Regions from separate parts of the Homo sapiens genome. Here region 2 is linked to region 1. Evidence: fine-mapped expression QTL. Tissue or cell type: fibroblasts. Region 1 holds a variant in brackets; the other region holds the start of a gene. All regions are shown on one strand. Distances are between the middles of the regions.

Region 1 (9,603 bases):
ATTTGTTGTTTACCTGAAATTCAAGTGTAATTGAACCTTTTGTATTTGCTAGAGCTGGCAACCCTCCAGAGGCAATTAATCGATGAATCCCCTTAGATCTGAGCACCGTTGGTTGTTACGGGTTGGGGTCCTTGGTGGCCTCACTTGGAAGCCCTCGTTTTGTTCAGCAGGAGTTCCCGTTGGAGGCCGGTATCTCCCACCTGGAAGCCGACCTGAGCCAGACCTCCCTGGTCCTGGAAACATCCATTGCCGAACAGTTACAGGAGCTGCCGTTCACGCCTTTGCATGCCCCTATTGTTGTGGGAACCCAGACCAGGAGGTGAGGTGTGGGTCTGGGTGGGATGGAACCAGTCACGTGCTGTGCCGTCAGACTGTTGGACCTTGTGAACCCCAGGGTTTCCACAGGGAGGTGCATCAATGGGTCCCCCCTTTCCCGGGAGGCTACCTGAGGAGTCTCTGTGTCTCAGCTCTGCAGGGCAGCCCTCGAGAGCCTCCATGGTGCTCCTGCAGTCCTCCGGCTTTCCCGAGATTCTGGATGCCAATAAACAGCCAGCCGAGGCTGTCAGCGCTACAGAACCTGTGACGTTTAACCCTCAGAAGGAAGAATCAGATTGTCTACAAAGCAACGAGATGGTGCTACAGTTTCTTGCCTTTAGCAGGTAAATCCTTGAATATTCTGTTACTCATCTGGCTTTCACATTTCCTGTGTTGAAGAGAAACTTCGCTGAGGTTCTGACCTGGCAGAACTGTCTGTGCTGAGGTCTTAGTAGATTCGGGAGTGCCATCTGTTTTTATCTTCTCTTGGCTAGGACCCACCCACAGCATGCTAAATGCTGTGAAAGCTGCTTTACCCCATCTTTTGTGGTCCTTCATTAAAATGTGGACGGTGGGTTGTCCAGGTCTTAGATCTTAGTGTAGCTCCAAAGGCAGCTTCTCTAGCCGGGAGTGTCCTTACACTCGAGAATGCTGCTGTCTGGCCGGCTTGCTGAGAGCACAGCAAAGCGGTTGCATTGGTGACCACGGCAGCCTCTTTACTGTTCCCCAGCGACTAAGGTGCCTGGACCATCCCCTATGCAAACACACATTAGACCCCTCAGGTTCTGTGCCATGGATACTCAGTTAACCCAGAGCTGTTGTTGGATTCAGAGTGGCCCAGGACTGCCGAGGAACATCATGGCCAAAGACTGTGTATTTCACCTTCCAGTTCTACCGCTTCCCACCCGCAACGACGCCACGACTGCAGCTGGTCCAGCTGGATGAGGCCGGCCAGCCCAGCTCTGGCGCCCTGACCCACATCCTCGTGCCTGTGAGCAGAGATGGCACCTTTGATGCTGGTGAGTACTCATGTGCATGGCAAAGGCAAGACATTCTGTACTGAGTTGTGTGTGTAAATTGTCAGTGTTATTAAATAAGTGGTACTATGAAAAGTTTAAAACATATGCAACATTAGAATCATACGGTGACCAGTGCAGCAAACACTTAGCCCCAGCAGCTCTCAGCTGCCTCCCAACCCAGCGTCCTCCCCCAAGCCAGGGTTATTTTGAAGCAAATCCCAGACATTATATAATTTCATGTATGAATATTTCCTTATGTATATCTAAAAAATTAGGAATTCTCATTTGAAAAACATAAACTTAAGGGGTATAGCCCATCTAAAATAATAACTCCTAATATCATCAAATATCTAGCCAATGTTAAAATTTTGCTAGTAACCTCATAACATTTTTTTAAGTTTGTCCAGAAATAAGGTCCATACTGGTCATGGAGCAGTGTGACTCTTCAGTCTCTGTCTGCAGTTGCTGCCACCGTACCTGTCTCTGTTGTTTCTTTTTTATGTATTTATTGAAGAAGCCACATTGTACTGTAGAGCGTCCACCCCACAGTCTGGATTCTGTTTTTGTATCCTGGTGGTAACATAAAGGTGTTGTTCTGTCCCCTCTTTAGCTGTAAATTGGGAGTTAGATCTAGATGCATGATTAGATGCTTTTTTTTGTTTTTGGCAAGAGTTCTTTGTAGCAGGTGACGTTTGCGCCACCTCCTGCACCTCCGCTGCGCCCTTGGCGTCTGCTTGCTTCTCTTTGTGTTGCGTCAGCAGCCATTGTGCCCACCGCTGTGTCATTTGTGCAGAGGTGACGTTCTGCTTCTAGAACACCTCCCTTGTTTGTTAGCTGGGATGCTTCCAAAACCAGAAACTTCCTGGCATCAACTTTTTGCTTACCTTGAGGTGCAGTTTGTATAGGAAAGGCTGGATAATACTTGATTCTTCCCTTTATTTGCCAATTTCTGAAGTAATTACATGATTCCCTGGCATCCTTCAAGGATGGGGACTAATGACTTTTTTTTTCTTCGGGTATCATTGTAAACGAATAGATTGAAGCTACATTGAATAGAAACACACCTGACATGTTGATATTTTTATTGATGGTCAGTTTCCCCATCTTGGTCAGTGACTCAGCTCATAAGGGACCCAGCTGGGGTCTGAAACACTGCCGCCTCTCGAGGTAGAAAGTGGCAGATGGGAAAAGTGATGTTAAAATGCTGACCTCAAATGAAGTAGCCTAACAGTGGCACCTGACAGCAGAGACACAAAGCAAATGCAGCGCTAGGGATCAAGGAGGCTGGTAAACAATAACCAAGAAAGTAATTCACTAGGAAAAGAAACAGTTCTGAATCCGCGATCTTCTAACATACGTAGCCTCAAGATAGAGAGGAGAACTTGATGGACTTATAAGGAGAAATTGGCAAACCTCCACAATCATGGGAGTTCTAGACATACTTCTCAGTAGATTGATCAAACAGAAACAAGTTAATAAGGATATTATAAAATACAGTTTAAAAAGGTGATCTGAGAAAACCTGTACATCCCGTTTAGAGAATATGCATTATTTTAAAGCATACTTTGAAACTTAGAAAAACTGATCATCATTCATATATATTTTTTAGCTCACCAAGCAGGCATCACCCTATACTGAGAGAATCGGTATCAAATCTAATTTTATAACTTTCTCTGGCCATAATGCCACAAGATCAGAAGTCAGTCACTCCCTCCCCTACAACCACTCTGAACTGCTTTTATTTTTTTAATTTTAAAATGTGCTTCTAATTATTCCATGAGTCAATGAAGACCTCAAAATAGAAATGCGTAATTATTTAAAACTGAATGACAAAATAATATTGCATATCAAAACTTAGGAGATGCAAGTAAAATTGTAATTACAGGGGAATTTACAGTTTTAAATGCCTATGTTGGTGAAGAAGAAAGGTACTCTTTAAGATATTGTTTTAATTGTTCAACTTAAGAAGTTTTGGGGAGAAAGACAGAACAAACCCAGTAAAAGTAGAAGGAAAAAAATTTGATAAGTGTAAATGCTTAGAAGACAAAACAATAGAACGGGTCAACCAAACAGTTGGGCACCAGGGTCACCAGGTACAACAGGGCATGCTTCTTGTTTCTTGTCCATGGGCACAGTCGGTCAAGAGAGGCAGATGGCGGAGATGAAAATATCACTTTCTTTATCATGCATTTATTCATGATAAAGAGGGTGTAGGACTTGGTTGGTCTGAGAGCCAGCTGTGCCCACTGGCGCCAGCCCCTGATGTGGATGGCCTTTGATGCAGGTGGAGGTTGGCCAGACAGCAGCAGGCTTTGCACCTGGGGTGAGCCCTCGCCTCTCTGCATGCCTGGAAGCACATCTCGGACTGTTGCATTCTCTCCTGTGGGCAGATCTGAAAAGAAGAGAGTGGGGAGGAGGAGTGAGCAGCCTAGTTAGTTAGTTAGCTCAGTTAGGCTATTCCCCATCCCCAGTCAGTTGAGCTGCTCTTGCCCTGAGAGGCATGGGGGCTGGGCAGAGAGAGGCCACAGGAAGTTCCTTTGCATAGAGGTGTGAAGCCAGGGAAGGCTGTGCTCCTACAGCATTTCCAGGGTTTGGTTTTCTCAACTCACTGGCCTTCATCATTACGTTTATGGCCAACCAGGGGTGTGGCCTTTGTCTTTGGGGGAGGGGGCTGGTCACCACCAGGGCGGTTCCAACCTTCCTGAATCACTTCAACTAAGCCAACCACCTTTCCTTTTTCAGTCCTCCTGAGGCCTTTGGTAGACAGTCCAACTGATGTCCCCAGAAGGCTGTAAAATGGATCAGACTAATGCATTTGTCTCAAGGCTCCTCTGTACCCACTGCTGAAGACTCATTCCCCACTCTGTTTCCCATTCCAAATTCCATCCAGTCATTTTATCCAGCACAGCTCATCAGAGGCTCTGCAACGAAGTTAAATGATAGCGTTGAGACCATTCAATAAAAAAGGCCAACCACTTAGAGATGCTCCTGACTTGAATATAAACCCCTTTCCATGATGAATTTCCCAGAGAGGAATTAAAGTCCCCAAATTAAATTTCCTTGCAAGTTGAAGTCCAAAGAAATGAAACTCCAAAATCAAATTTTTCTTGTCATTATGAATTAAAATTCACAGTCCAAAATTCTTAAGTTGAAGTCCAAAAAAACCCCACCCGACTGATTTCAATTTCTTACATATCTGAGTCTCTGCCTGGGCAGGTCTGGGCTTCCTTCAGCAGCCGCAGCTTGTGGGAGGGTTCTCCCTGGACGGGCATGGTTCCCTAGGGCCTTGGTAGTTGCATCAGTTCAGGACTGAGCCTCTCATAAGCCTCACTTAAAAGATATTTGTTGTTGTTGTTGAACTGTAACATGCGTACGGTAAAGACAGATTGCCAGTGCATGGTTCCATTATTTTTAAAAATTAGTAATTTTATTTTTTTAGATCAGTTTTAGGTTTACAGAAAAATTGAGTAGCTGGTACAGAGAGTTCCCGTAGGACCTCCCCCCACCCCAACAGTTTCCCCTATTACTAACATTTTGCGTTGGTGTGACATATTCTTTTTTGTTTTTTTTTGGGTTTTATTTGAGACAGGATCTTACTCTGTCACCCAGGCTGGAGTGCAGTGGCACAATTATGGCTCATGGCAGCCTCGACCTCCTGGGCCCAAACAATCCTCCCACCTTAGCCCCCACAT[A/T]GCTGGGACCACAGGCATGCACCACCATGCCCAACTAATATTTTTTTTGTAGTTTTTGTAGAGATGGGGTTTTGCCTTGTTGCCCAGGCTGGTGTTGAACTCCTTGGCTCAAGTGATCCTCCTGCCTCAGCCTCCCAAAGTGCTGAGATGACAGGCGTGAGCCACCATGTAACAAATGTAACATTTGTTACAATTGATGAACCAGTATTAAAAAATTATTATGAACTAAACTCATAGTTTACACTAAAGTTCATTCTGCATTATACAGTCTGTGATTTTTGACAAATACATGACATCATGGATCCACCATGATGGATCATACAGAATAGCTTCATGGCCCTACACCTCCCCTGCGCTCCACCTATTTAGCCCTCCCCTCCTCCCCTGGCACTACTGTTCTTTTGACTGTTTCCATGTTGCCTCTTCCAGAATGTCATACAGCTGGAATTATGTAGTATGTAGCTTTTCAAAACTGGTTTCTTCCCCCCAGCACTGTGCATTTAGTTCCTCCATGGCTTTTTGTGTCTCGCTCACTCACGTATTGGATTGCTGAATGATACTTCATTGCACGTATGTGCCACAGCCTGTTTTTCCATTCACCTCTTGAAGGGCATCTTGGTTGTTTACAGTTTTTGGCAATTTTGAATGAAGCTGTCAGAAACATTTGTGTACAGGGTGTTGTGTGTACATAATCTTTCAACTCACAGGTAAATACCAAGGAGTGTGATTGCTGGATCACGTGGTAAGAGTATGTTTAGTTTTGTTAGGAGTCACCATACTGTCTTCCAAAGTGGCTGGGCATTTTGCATTCCCACCAGCAGTGAATGAGGATTCTGGTTGCTCCATATCCTCACCAGCATTTGGTGTTGTCAGTGGTTTGGATTTTAGCCGCTCTAGCAGGCAGTGCAGTGGTGTCTTGTTGTTGTAATTTGCAGTTCTCTAGTGACCTATGATGTGGAGCATCTTCTCATGTGCTTATTTGCTGTCTGTGTATCTTCTTCCCTGAGATTTCTGCTCAGATACCTGAACAGATGTCTTTTTATATTTTGGATGCAAGTCCTTTATCAGATACGTATTTTGCAAATGTTTTTTCCCTATCTATGGCTTGTCTTTTTATTCTCTTACCAGTATGTTTGGCAGAGTGAAGTTTTTCATTTTAGTGAAGTCCAGGTCATTAGTTATTTCTCTCATGGATTGTGCATGGGTTGTATCTGAAAAGCCATCTCTGAGGTCACCTAGATTTTGTTCTGTGTCGTCTCCTAGGAGTTGTATAGTTTTGTGGTTTACATTTAGGTCTGTGATCCATTTTGAGCTAATTTTTATAAAAGGTATAAATTTTACCAAGTGAACACACCTGCGTAACCACCTCCCAGCCCGGAAGGGGCTCTGGAACAGGATGCAGAGGCCTCCCTCACCGCAGTCCTTCACCTCCCCCAAGGGAACCACCCTTCTGAATTCTGCCACTGTACATCAGTTTTGCCCCTTTTTGGACTTCGGTGGGATCATGTTTTATGTTCTGTTTTGAATCCCACTTCTTTTGCTGGCCTCTTGTCTGTGGGGTCCCTGTTCTGTCTATAGCAGTAGCGTTTCTGTTTTCCTGGCTGTAGAGAAGCCCAGTGTCGGGTGATTCTGTGATGCTTCTCCATTCAAACAGGCGTTGGAATGGGTTCTAGTTTTTGGCTCTTCTGCATAGTGCTGCTGCGAGTGTGCTTTTGGTGCGCACGGCCGTTGTGTTAGAGATATGCCTGGTAGTGAACGGCTGGGTTGTGGAGCAGCACCTGTTGTTAGGTTTAGTGGATCTGCCAAGCAGGTTTCCCTCGTGCTGCGCCAGCTTCCACATCCATCAGCAGGAGACAGGCAGCCCAGACAGCGCCATGTCCTCGCCAGTCACGTGGTGATCGCTGGTTTTCTTTGTTTCTTTGAACCATCCTGATGTAGAGGCATCTCGTGGTTGGAGCTTCCTTGATGATACCGAGTGCCTTTCACAGGCCTGCTGGCCTTAGGGGTATCGTCGTTCATGAGGCATGTGTTCAGGTCCCCTGCCCATTTTCTAGTGTGTTGTCTGTGTGTGTGTGTGTGTGCATGTGTGGGTTTGAATTGATAGGCATTCTTTCCGTATCCCGTCACCAGAGTTAATAGGACATGTAAGATTTTAAAGCACTGGCCCCATACCCACCAAATTTAGACAAGCCAATTCCCAGCCCTGAATAGTTGTCCTAAGGAAAATTATGTTCTCAGAATCCAAAATTTGACATTGCCAGAGACTCAGGTGTCTGAGTGAATGCGCGTAGATGGGAGAATGCCTTGGTTCCAGCTTCCCAGGCCTTTGCCATGTCCCGATCAGGAGGAAGATCCACTCAGAGAGCGGCATCTGAGGCGTGGCTGTCTGCCCGGCAGAGCCGCTGGGGGGCTCGTGCCAAGGCCCTGCACGCTGGTCCTACTGAACTGAAGCTTCCGGCAGCCACGCCCGTGAGCCTGGAGGAGCCAAGGAGCCCAGGGCTCCCGAGAGTGGTTTTCTCCGTGTTTGGGTGTTTGGAGCTGTGAGTGGCCTTTCTTCTCATCACCTCTTCTTCCTACACTTTTTGGGGGGCTCTGCCGAGGGCGTGGTCTCCCCTGCGTGTGTTGGTTCCCTCCTTGGCCCTGGGCTTGGTGCCTTCAACCCTTTTTGTTTTCTTCGCTCCTGTCCTGGCCTTTTGCTTCCTAACATGTTCCTCCTGGTGTTTTTGTCTTGTGGGGGCCCTCCTCAGTGTGAGAGCTGAAGTAATTGAATTTTGGATCAGCCAAGAGCATCTGTTCTTCCAAAGAACGCGGTCCATTTCCTCTCCCTGGGCTGTCCCAGCCGAGAGGCATCTCCATCAGACCAGCCTCCAGTCCTGCTCCGGGCCACCTAGCACAGCCTTGCCGTCTCTTCCTTAGTGGATCTCCTCTTTCCCGGGCCTTCTGCGAGAGCCCTAATCCCATATGTCCCCACCTGCAGAAACCGTGCCATGTTTTGGAACATTGCTTAACTGTTTATCTTGAATTATTTGAAAGTAAGTTGTTGACATGCATGGTAACACTCTACCTCTAAATAAGCAACGTGCATCTCTTAAAAATAAGGTACCCTTTTATATATGTGCAATTCTAGTATCACATTTAAGATAACACAAATTTCATAGTACCATTTCCCCATTTGTCCCCCATGTGTATTTTTTTGATCTGGGATCCAGCCCGGTTTCCTGTATTGTATTTGTAATTATCACTTTAATCTCGTAGTCGCCTGCATTCTTTTCCAGTGACACTGGCTTTCAGGAGAGACCAAGTGAGCTGTCTTGCAGAACGTCCCGTGTTCCGGGCTTACCTGGTTGCTTCTTCATGTTGTTGAACTTGTTGCTTTATCCCCCGTAGTTCTTGAATGCCGGGAGCGACGGCTGAAAGCTGTTTGATTCTGGATCTCAGCATGAACACTTCATTGTCAGTGCTGTGTGCTTCACAGCCCACCACCTCAGGAGGCGCGAATGTCAGACTATCTCATTGTTACGACGCTGATTCGGTTGCTTGGTTAAGGTGCCCACCCCCAGGTTTCTCCTGTAGAAAGAGAGTTTTTTCCCTTTGAACTGACTGAAGAATTCTTGGCGACATTTTTTGGCTTCATGCAAATATCTGGTCCCCAGCAACCTTCCACCTCTTGTTTTAACACCCTGGGCTGAGCTTTGCTTGCGTCAGTTATTTAATTGGTGTTTTTGAAATGGTAATTTGTCTAATTCTATCATTTGGTCTGCTCTGCCTTTATTAGCTCACATTCTTTGTTAAAAAAGAACTTTCCCTACCGATAAGCGATGAACTACATATACATGCTCCACAAAGACAGGACAAAGGTTTAATTCTTTCCCTTTAATTGCCAGTTTTCAGAGTGAGAAGTCGGTGGAATAGTTAGCCCAGCAGTGGGATCCCAGTGTTAGGTGTCCGGCTGTTTTGCTTTGTCTTTGGAGCGTGGCTGCGGTCTCCTGCATCTTCATCGATGCATGGGGTTGCACTCATTATTATTCCGGGAGCCCTTCCGGCCTTTCACCGGCTCTGATTGGACTTTGAGCGCGTCCTGCTTTCTGGAGCAGTGCCGGTTCCAGGCTCATCTTGTGCTCTCCCTGCCGCCAGCCAGGGCCCGTTTCTCTGAGGAGCCTGGTCTGCCTGAATGGGGATGACATTTCAGAGATCAGGATATGGGGTGCTTTGATTCTGGGTCTTCTTGCTTCAAAACCTTTCACCAGGAAGAGCTGGGAAAATGTAAAATGTGAGTTCATGTTGATCTTCCTAAGTCAGATTTAGAATTTTTCTCATAAATTTCCTTCTATTATTTGTATGTGTCTTACACAGAAAATCATGGTTTCTCATCATGTATTTACTTATTTATCTTGCCTAACAACGTATAGAATGCATTTTCACAATGACACTGCTGATGTTAATTGTTGACTTAATGTCAACAGTGCGTGTCCTGCTGAAGTCAGATTCTTCGCAGCTCCTTTTGGCCTCTGTCCCACCGAGGGTTCAGAATTGGTTTAGTGTGACCAAAAGCCCTCAAAATAATTCTTAGCTCCAGT
Region 2 (9,603 bases), 91 kb before region 1:
GGTCCCAGGAAACCACGCAGAAGGAAAGCCAGGTTCCTCTGCTCCGGTTTTCCTGGGGGCTCCGTTGGGCTGCCCAGGAACCACCTGAGCTCCAGGCAGGATGGTGGCTGGGGCGCCTCGTCCGACTGGAAGAGGGGGAACTGACAGTTATCCAGCACCCACTGTGTGCCAGGGAAGCCCCAGGCTCCTACCATTGAGGCACCAGTTCACCCATTCAGATAGAGGGAGACACGAATGATCCGTGTGGCTTAGCAGGCCAGAGAGCCAGAGACTCAGAGAGCTAAGTCTCTGGCAGGGAAACAGCCCAGGCTGGTGACTCAGGACCCCTGCGGACCAGACCTCAGGGGTCTACAGGACCCAGGAAGTTGCTCCAGAAAACTGGCCCACGTGGAATGGGTTGAATCTGGTGCGGGGTCTGAGAAGAAACCTGTGCCCAGCTCCCAGCCATGGAGTTGGATGATAGATCTCGGCTGCTCGGCAGTCAGGGCTCAAGATCACAGCCAGGAAAGCCTTCTCACTGGGTCCAGGTAAAGGCGGACGGCCAGGAAGGTGGTCCCCACCATTTCTCCACTTTTCCCCTTTTCCCAATCCTGTTTTGTCTACAACCAGCATGGCGTCAAAGCAGTTAGCTCTGTGGGTACCTGTGTGCTGGAGAAGTGGAGGAGGCTGCCTGCAAGGAGACAGGTGCCGGGGAAGCCGGCAGGGTGGGCATGGGGTTGCTCTGTCACTGAAGACACGCAGAACCTGGGTCTCTGGGGCTAACCATGTGGTCACTGCGCAGAGCAGGGAGTAGCCTCCTGAGACGCTGGCCAGCAGGGGTCTGAGTGGAAACCTGGGTGTGGCAGTGGCAGGGCACCCTCAGGCAGGGAGGGGCCTGAGCCCAGGGCTCATCCCATGGTGGGTGTGCAGGAAGAGGGAGGCTGGCCTTCATCTGAGTTCCCCAGGATGTGGCAGAGGACAAGAGGGCCCAGCATCTGCTCAGGCCCATGAGACAGGGAGTCTCACGCATCTGCCAAGCCCAGGCAGGCAGGAAAGCCTCGAGCCAGTGGGCAGTGACAGGACGAAGCCCAGGTGTGCCACCCCATCTCCCCCAGTGTGCTCTCTCCTGGGGAAGAGGGTCCTGTTCCCTTTGCCTCCTCGGGACTGGCTGAGCGGAGATGGTGTATCCCTTAATAGACTCACCCGAAGATAGACCAGGAGGGGCCTGAACATGGCGGGTCACCCGTCACCAAGGAAAGAGCAGTGTGGGGCTTCCCACGCCACGACAAAGGAGTGCTTCCATATCCCCCAGGGTCTGGGCCTGGGCCTCCAGGGCCTCTTGGGAGACTCACTCCTGCAGAGGTGAGGATTTCAGGCATTCGATGGAGCTCAGGTGATGGCGGAGGGGGCACCTCTCACAGAGTTCTGGCAGGGCAGGAACAGAATCAAGGTTTCCTCACTAGCTGGGAGGCCAGGATCAGTTTCACTGCTGCTCTGTGCCTCAGTTTCCCTATCCAGCCTCCCTCACAGGGTTGTTTACAAGTGCCGGAGGCGAACTGAGGTCATGAGTGTAGTTCCAGTGTGGGGAGGGTCCCTCCTTTCCTTCATCCCACCACGGACCTGGTGCCCTCACTCTTCTCTAACTATGGGGCCATCTCTTTGAAGGCCACGAACAACAGTACCCTTGCACCAGGGCCTGCATGCCAGGCAGGACTGAGTCGCTGAGAAATCTCCATGGTAGTGGCACCTCCCAGTCCCAAAAGCCCCTCCAGTGACCTGGACACACCCAAGGGCACTGGCTGCGCCCATGAATGTCAGCAATGCCTCCAAGTGGCCTTCTGAAGGGACAGCCGGTCATGTCCTCGGGGTGCTGGCTTCCCCCAGCTCGGACAGCCAAGGCATGAACTGGGCTCAAATAAGTAGGAAGTAGGGGGTCCAACCCAGCTCCGTCACTGCCTCTGTTGACCCTGGAGAAGCCTGTCCTTCCGTTTAGTCCTCTGAGAGCAAGGATGACCGGCTGCTGGGTGCCAAGACCCAAGTCCTCCTGGTGGTGGGAGGGGGACTGGCGGGAACATGGGGTCTATGGCCCTAGACACCTCTGGCATCAATCCTTCTCGAATTGCCGCCCCGAGCTGCCCACTGTCCTGCCTCCTTATTCAGGGACGCCAGGAAAACATTCACTCTGGGACCTCTGGCGGCGTGAATATCACTGAGAACTTAGCCGAGGACCAGACACATACCGCACCTGGCCAGAGTCCCTGGAAACAGAAGCACGGTCCCCTGGTTCTCGCGAGGGAGCAGGCTCTCCTTCCACACAGATGATGTGTTCCCAGTTACCACGGCAGAGCACCAACACACAGGAAGGTCTAGGGGAGGCCCCTCCCTCCAAGCCCAGGCCGGAAACTGCCAAATCAAAACTGTGTGGCACTCGCTTCCTCCTGAACCATTTGGGTCTTAGAAGATGACTGAAAAATGAAAGCGAGGAAGCCTTCTCTAGCTGGCCAGCCCATGGCACCCTCGGCCTTTCCAGCTCTCTAGCGCCATGGCCCACGTCCCACCTCCCGGGTGCAATGGCTTCTGTGCACACTGCTTCCCATCCAGGCTCCAAATCCAGACCCAAGACGGTTCTCAACCAAGAAACACACGAAAAGGGTTTCACACTTTTTCACGACACCCCCCAACTCCAGTGCCTGGCTCAGCCCCCAGGTGTTGACTAGCACCTACAAAGCATTTGCTGACTGGCGCAGGGAAAAAAAAAATGGCCCTGGGTGTCAACAGGGAAGCCCCTACCATGCTGCTCTCGAGGGATGTGCTGCGGCCCGAACACTGTCAGTGCCACTGAGGCCGAGTGTGGCCGTGGAGACAATGACAGGACCTGGAGGACCAAGTGCACTCTTAGGGCCCCACACTGCGAGAGCACAGGGCCAGGAGCTGCACAGGGCTCTGCAGCAGACACGGCCGCCAGGCGAGAATCAGGTGGGCAGATGTGACTCTCCACACGTAGGTCCCCAAACCCTGCAACCTGCAACGCGGGGCCTGAATGCGGCTTCCTTAGCAGAGCAGGAGCTTACTCTTGGCACTGGGGGAAAGGGGAGGGGTGAGGCTGGGGTTTTTGTCGGGGAGGAGAAGTTGCAGAGAAAGAAAAAATCCTGAAACGACAGACAGTGGGACAGCTGTGGCCTGAACTTGGTGTTCTTGCTCCTCGGATGTGGATGTATTAATTTCCATAAATGCTAATAGCCCACTTCCCCAAGAGCTATTACTTATGTCATCTCCCCTTGGACACAGTTCAACACAGGGCAGACAAATGAAAGGGAGGAAAAGACAACCCCCAGTGGCGGTCCCCAGCTCCTCAGCCCCCTCCCAACCAGGCAGCTCAGGTCTGGTTCCTAAGGTGGCCCTGCTAACCGCAGGGTCAAGACCCCTGCCTTCAGCTCCGTAGCCAGGTCCCTATCACGACAGGAAGCAAGAAAGTTACCAACCCCAAAAATGCTGAATCACAAAGTGAGGCTGAGCAGGAAAGTGGGGGTGGGGAGGGAAGGAGACGGTGGCCAGGGAGGAAAGGTGCTAAGGGGCTTTCCACCTGGAGCACCCCGGGATGCTGCGGGCAAAGCACAGTCCCTGTAAGAGCCCCCAGGACAAATGCCAGGAGGAGGGACACCAGGATGCGGCTGGTTGGCGGGGTGGGAAGGTGGGCAGGTACCCCGGCTGCTGCTAATGCCGCAGGACGCGGTGCAGCAGTGGGGTCTTTGCATCCTGGGAGCAGCAGCAGGTAGGGAGGTGCGGAAGTGCTTTGTGCCAAGGCCTGGCAGGAGGGAGAAGCTTAAGATAGGAGTAGGGGCTCAGGGTCAGAAGTGGCGGTGTGTGTGCTGTAAACAGCCCGAGGAACTGGTGCAGGAAGCAGGGTCACAGTCTTGGGGAGCAGGGTAAGGTGGTGAGAGCGTGCCCGCGGGGAGAGGTCGGAGGGGCTGGGGGCAGAATGGGAGGGTGGGGAAAGGGACCGGAGCGACACAGGGACAGGCAGCGAGAACGACGGATGAGCCTTGAGAAGCGATCAGGAGGAGAGATGGGGAGGACCGGGAACAGCAGCGCCCCGGTGGGGCTGCGCAGAGGCCGGGAGAGGGGATGAGAGGAGGATGGAGGAAAGGGGAGGGCGAGGCTGCTAGGACCGGAGCGGGCAGAGATGGGGAAGAGGTGCACCGGGAAGAGGGACGGCGGCAGGGGCAGGGGTCAGGGATGCGAGCTGAAGGGTCGGGCGGGCGGGAGGACAGGGAAGGAAAGACAGAAAGGGATGGGGGAAGGGAGACGATGGAGAAGGAGGTGAGGAGGCTGGAGAGGAGGTGAGACAGCGGCGGAGGCAGGGACGCAGGGCCGGGGAAGAAGAGATGGAGACGGGACCGCGGCGCCTGCCGCAGCGCGGGCCTCGCGGATACCCGCCGCCGCCGTCCCGGAGCAGCTTGGTGGAAAGCGCGCCCCGCCGGGGTCTCCCCGGTACTCACCTGGGGGCTCCAGCTCCGGATCCTGTGCCCCGCGCCGGATCTTCCTTCCCGCCCTGCCCCTGCGACTTTAGCGCCCCCGAATCCCGCTAGCTCCTGCAGGTTCCGCCAGCAGCATCTTCACCTCGTGGGACGCCCGGGGCCACGCCTCTTCCAGCTTCTGATTGGCTATTGTTCACGCCAGTCACATTACCATTGGTTGAGGGGTCGTCGGACATGCAAATCAGGATGGGCCCGCCGCCGCACCGATTGGCTGGCGCTCGCAAAGCGCAGCCCTCGACTTGGGCTCTGATTGGCTCCGCGGCCCTGACGGCGACAGTGACGCGAGGCGGGTTCTTGGACTGAGTGTGCGGCGCGGTGCGCCGCCTTCCGAGGCTCCTCCCGCGGGTGGCAGCGGACGGGGCGCGCCCCTCGGCCAGTCCTCGGTCCTCAGGCTTGTGGCTCCGTTGAGCACCGGCCGCCGGGCCTCTGGGTCCGTCGAGTGGAGACTCTCTGAAAAGCGTGGGCTCCGTGGCCTCCGGCGCGGCCGCGGCGGGTCGGTCTCCTAGGTAACGCGGCCCGCGGCGGGCGGAACCATGTGGGCCGGCGCCGCGGGGGAGGTTGGACGCGGCCTCGAGGCACAGGGGGCCTCAGTGTTGGCCAGAGCCTCGGGGTTCGGGGGTAGGGTGGTCCACGCCGTCCCTGCGTGGGGGCCCGGTGCCTGGGGTGCGGCGGTGGCGCGCGGCGGGGGCTGTCCCCGCGTTAGTCGCAGGCGTCCCCCCTCGTCGGGACACTTGGGGTCGGGGCCGCTGGGTGCCGTTTGGCTACGTGGGTTCCTTTCTGCCCTTGCCCTTTGCCCCCTGCCCCCTGCCCCCTGCCCCCTGCCCCCTGGCCTCTCTGCAGCCCCTCGGCTGAAGGGAGCGCGGTACCGATGTTCTGGGCCTTGGCTCCCCGCGCCCTAGTCCGCGCGCATCCTTCCCAGGCCGGAGTCCGCGGACCCCGCCTGGCCGCGCCCCTCCGCCCCTCCTCCCCGCCCCCCGGCTCCAGCTCCGGCTCCGGCTGTCAGTTCCCCGCGGTGGCTCTGCGGCCTTCGGGCGTCCCTGCGAGGCTTTGTACCCGGCGCCGTCCCGGCCTTCTGCGCCCCTTTCCTGCCTTGGAACCTCCCGGCCGACCCGGCCCGGAAGGCGCCACCCGCTCCCGCGTGCCCTTCCCCACGCGTGCAGGCTGCTCCCGCCCGCCCCCGGGCTTGCAGGCACCTCGCTGCCCGAGATTCCTCGTGTCTAACTTCTTAGGAGACCGCTGCTTTCTGCCTCCGTGTGTCGCGATGTGTGGCTTTGGTGGACGTCTGTGAAGGAAATCCAGCCTCTCGCGTGTGTAGTTGGCAAAAGGAGGAGTATTTCTGTTGATGGTGGGCAGCGCCTCCCGGTCCTAACCCAGGGCTCCGTTCGTTGCACCTCCTCTGTGCAGTTTCCGTAGGTCACACTTGTGTCTTTTTGTATGCTAATTTGTGCCCCGTTTCTTTACATTCTATGGGGGTAGCGAGCTTGTCTGCTGTGTTCAAGACCGTTTCTCCCGGGCGCAGGGTAGGTGCTGAAAGAATGCTCATGAATGAGGGAATTCCAGGCAGTGCTTAATCAGACCTCTGCTTCCCCAAAAGCTCCCCAAGGCATCTGGGTCTCAGGCATTACACATTTTCCATTCCGGGAAGGAGGCTTCCCGGACCCTGACAGCGCCTCCCACCCCCTGCATCTTCCTTCAGCCCTGCTCACCTCTGCACCCTCCCGGGGGCCTGTTGCTGCTCACAGTCACTTTCTTGTCTTTCTCCCCCACTGGCTTTCTAGATGCTTGAAGACAGCACATTTGACAGCCTTCTTATGCACTGGAACACAAGTGCTCGGGAAATAGTTGCTGAATAGATCAGCAGAAGCAGAGATCTCAAGGAGATTTCACAGCTCTCATTTTGGAGGTTGGAAACAGGTGGGGAGGCTGCGAATCTGTCCTGAAGTTAAAGAGGAGACAGCATTAGCCCTGGGTTCCTTTGGTGCTCTTACTTTTTCCCTCTGGGCCTCTCTTCTCCCTTGGCCTCTCCTGGCCTCCTTGATTGAGGTAGTGGGAGGTAGTTATAATAGCTTACAGTATTATATCTATAATACTATTATAATAGCTAGTTATAATAGCTAGCTGTGTGACCTTGGATTGGCTGTTTATCCTTTCTGAGTCTCAGTGTTCTCATCTGTAAGATGGCGATAATGATGATTCTCATTTGGCAGAGTTGTTGGAATAGTAACCATAGAATGTGAGTTCCTGTCTTGCATCAGGGGCTCATTAAAAGTGGGTGTATTTTCTTCTTCTTCTTTTTTTTTTTCCCCTGGAGAGCCCACTGTACCCTTTTCTTGGGTTCAAGACCTGGAGCCTTCTCGATTTTCTCTTTTATTGTTGATTTGGCCCCAAAGGCCCCTCTGCACTTCCTCCAGGGCATTTGTATTTCATCCTTAAAAGACTTTTGCTGAAGACCCAGCCTGGTGTCATGGAGCTCACAGTCTCGCAGGACTACAGCACAGCCCTGGTGAAGCGTGGTGGCTCTTCTGTCACCTGCCCTGTGTGGGAGCAGCCGGAGGTGGGGGATGGGGCTCTCGCTCTGAGGAGGGAGCATTTGGTTTGACTCCTAGAGGCCAGAGCAGAGGTGGAAAGGAGCAAGGAGCAGGTGGAAGGGCACCCGGAGAGGTTTGTGAGGTGCTGGGATGGCAGTGAGAGCTGCTGCGGGCGCTTGGGCTCCCACCTGCAGAGTCTCAGGTGTCACCTCGGCCTCCGTGGCCCCTCAGACTAGGACTGCCCTGCCTCCACATCCCGAGCCTCAGGACTTCCGTGTGGGTGGCAGGTGCTTTCGGAATGGATGCCCTTCCGCCTAGTGTCTGCCCTCCTAGTACAGCAGGGGGCCGGCATGCTTCATGCTCCCTGTGAGGGTCGACTGGCGTATGCACGTCCTTCAGCAGTGTCCTTGGGCCAAGTGTGGCACTGAGTCCTGCAGACACCCAGGGAGAGGGCAGGAGGCACCGGGTCAGAAATCTGGGGCAGGTGAGGAGCATGGGCATCTGCGTCAGGAGAGACTTCCTCTCTGAAATCCCCACCTGGGGCCATCACGGCCTGCATTGTGTGTGAATACATTTCTGAATGTTATAAAACATCAGTGGGAAAGAAAAGCTTGAGGGTAGCTTTGCTAAAGCTTCTGTTTGGTTCCGTGACCATTTACTGAGTTGTGACGGTACCAAGAACACAGGAGGAATGAGGCTTCTTTCTTCAAGAACTTGGCCAGCGAGCAATTCAACACAAGATAGGTGACGAATGATGTGACCAAGGGAAGCACAGGGGCCATGTGAGCCTGGGGCCTGGACCCTGGGAGCACCTGGGAAGCCCTCCTGGGGGAGATGGCCCTTGAGCTGGTATTGGTCAGGTGTCTTCTGCTTATAAGTCGTGGACAGCTGTATGATTTCCTGTGGCTCCTGTAAGAAAGTCCCACAGACTTGGTTGCTTAAAAGTAGCACAAATTTGTTCTTTTCCAGTTAGGCCGGTCAGAAGTCCAAAGTCGGCTCTCCCTGTGGTGGCTCCTGGGGCTCTGGGCTGGCATGGTGTGGGCAGTTGTGGGCATTGGAGGAGAGACATCCTGGGCTCAAGTCTCCCGGGGAAGACTGATGGCTCAGTGTGGGCCATGTGTTCCTCCTTGAAGCAATCACTGCAGTCTCTGGCTGGAATCGGGGAGCAGCTCTCCCCATACATGGAATTGGGTCAGGGTCCTCCACAAAACAAGGGAAGTTGAGCGACAAAAATAGCCCACAGAGAACAAAAAGGAACAAACCAGCATGTGTGCCTGCTGGATTCACACAGGACCAGACTGAGTCTGGTCCTCAGGAATACCTGGCCCACATGCAGCATCTGCGTGCACTGTGGGTGGAGGCGGGACGCTGGGCCAAGGATGCAGCGTCTGGGTGCACTGTGGGTGGAGGCGGGACCCTGGGCCAAGGATGCAGCGTCTGGGTGCACTGTGGGTGGAGGCGGGACCCTGGGCCAAGGCCCCTCTCAGGCTGCCTGGTCATGTCCTCTCGGTTCCCACACATGCCGGGAGCATGCAGGGGGTGAACCATTAGCACAACCCTTCTCAAACTTTTTGGTCTCAGATCCCTTTACCCTTTAAAAGATTATTGAGGACCCCAAAGAACTTTTGTTTATGTGAGTTATATCTACCAATGTTTACTGCCATAGAAGTTAAAACTGAGAAATGTTAAAAATATTAATTTATTTAAAAATAAGGCTGTGACATGTTAACATAAAAACATTTTTTACAAAAACCAACTATATTATCCAAAACAAAAAAAAATTTAGAAGAGTGGGATTCTTTTGCATTCTTGCAAATATCTTTACAGTCTCCTTAAGAGAGGACAGCTGAAGGCTCCTGTTTGCTTCTGTACTCAGTCTGTTGCCTTGTGTTGCCTTGGTTGAAGTATGTGAAGGAAATCCATCCCGATCTAGTTAGGGAGGAGTCTCTTGGGTCATTGTGGATATTCTTTGCTGCTGCATTGAAACCCTACGAGCAGAAGTTTCTTAAGGATTTGTTCTAAAGCAGAGTCTCCACCATGTGAATGAACTCTTCGTGCTCTGACATTAAACTCCTTTGGTCTGTCTTGCACTTTGGGTGGATGTTTTCTTCTTGCAGGATTTTGTACCATTACGCATTGTTCAGAAAATATTGGTTCACGGAGTCATGCAGACCTTCCAACTATTGACACATTTAATGGTGTAACCTTAGAAGATCACGTTATATCACTGCCCCTCTCATCAGGAAAGTCTTGAAGAAGTGTGAAGCTAGTAGGCTCATGGTAGAGGATACAAATGTTCTTAATTCTCATTTTTGCTTGGAAACTCCATTTTTGTTGCAGTTGTTTTCCCGGAAGTGACATGCTAACTTTGTTCACGTTTGAGAAGATGTCTGCCAAGTACCCATGTTTGTCTCTCAGTCATTCTTCTTAGTGAAAATGGTGTTGAATAATAAAAGCGGTGTGTTCAGCATGCAGCCCAGTCACAGCCAGGCTTCCCCGGGGATGACTGTTGCCTTTCAGTTTGCAGCAGAAATGCTTGTTGTGTATTTTCCATTTCG

What was found. PIP is the estimated chance that this variant, and not a neighbour inherited with it, causes the effect.
Region 2: it holds the start of NPHP4, and the variant in region 1 is fine-mapped to the expression of NPHP4 in fibroblasts (GTEx, PIP 0.97).

Annotation. Positions count from the first base shown.
Region 1 is chr1:5,896,348-5,905,950 of GRCh38, reverse strand. NPHP4 (nephrocystin 4) reads left to right here. Exons shown (of 30, transcript NM_015102.5): 14 at 168-319; 15 at 468-659; 16 at 1,147-1,334. Among named protein-coding and RNA genes, the nearest start is that of MIR4689, 38 kb to the right of the region's middle. RefSeq lists enhancers at 7,955-8,754, 8,755-9,556. The variant A/T (reference allele first, on the strand shown) is at 5,027.
Region 2 is chr1:5,987,664-5,997,266 of GRCh38, reverse strand. NPHP4 (nephrocystin 4) reads left to right here and starts at 4,842. Exons shown (of 30, transcript NM_015102.5): 1 at 4,842-5,023. It also overlaps a transcript of KCNAB2 not described here. RefSeq lists enhancers at 3,493-3,542, 5,419-6,273 and silencers at 4,293-4,542, 4,623-4,802, 4,843-5,012, 5,163-5,342.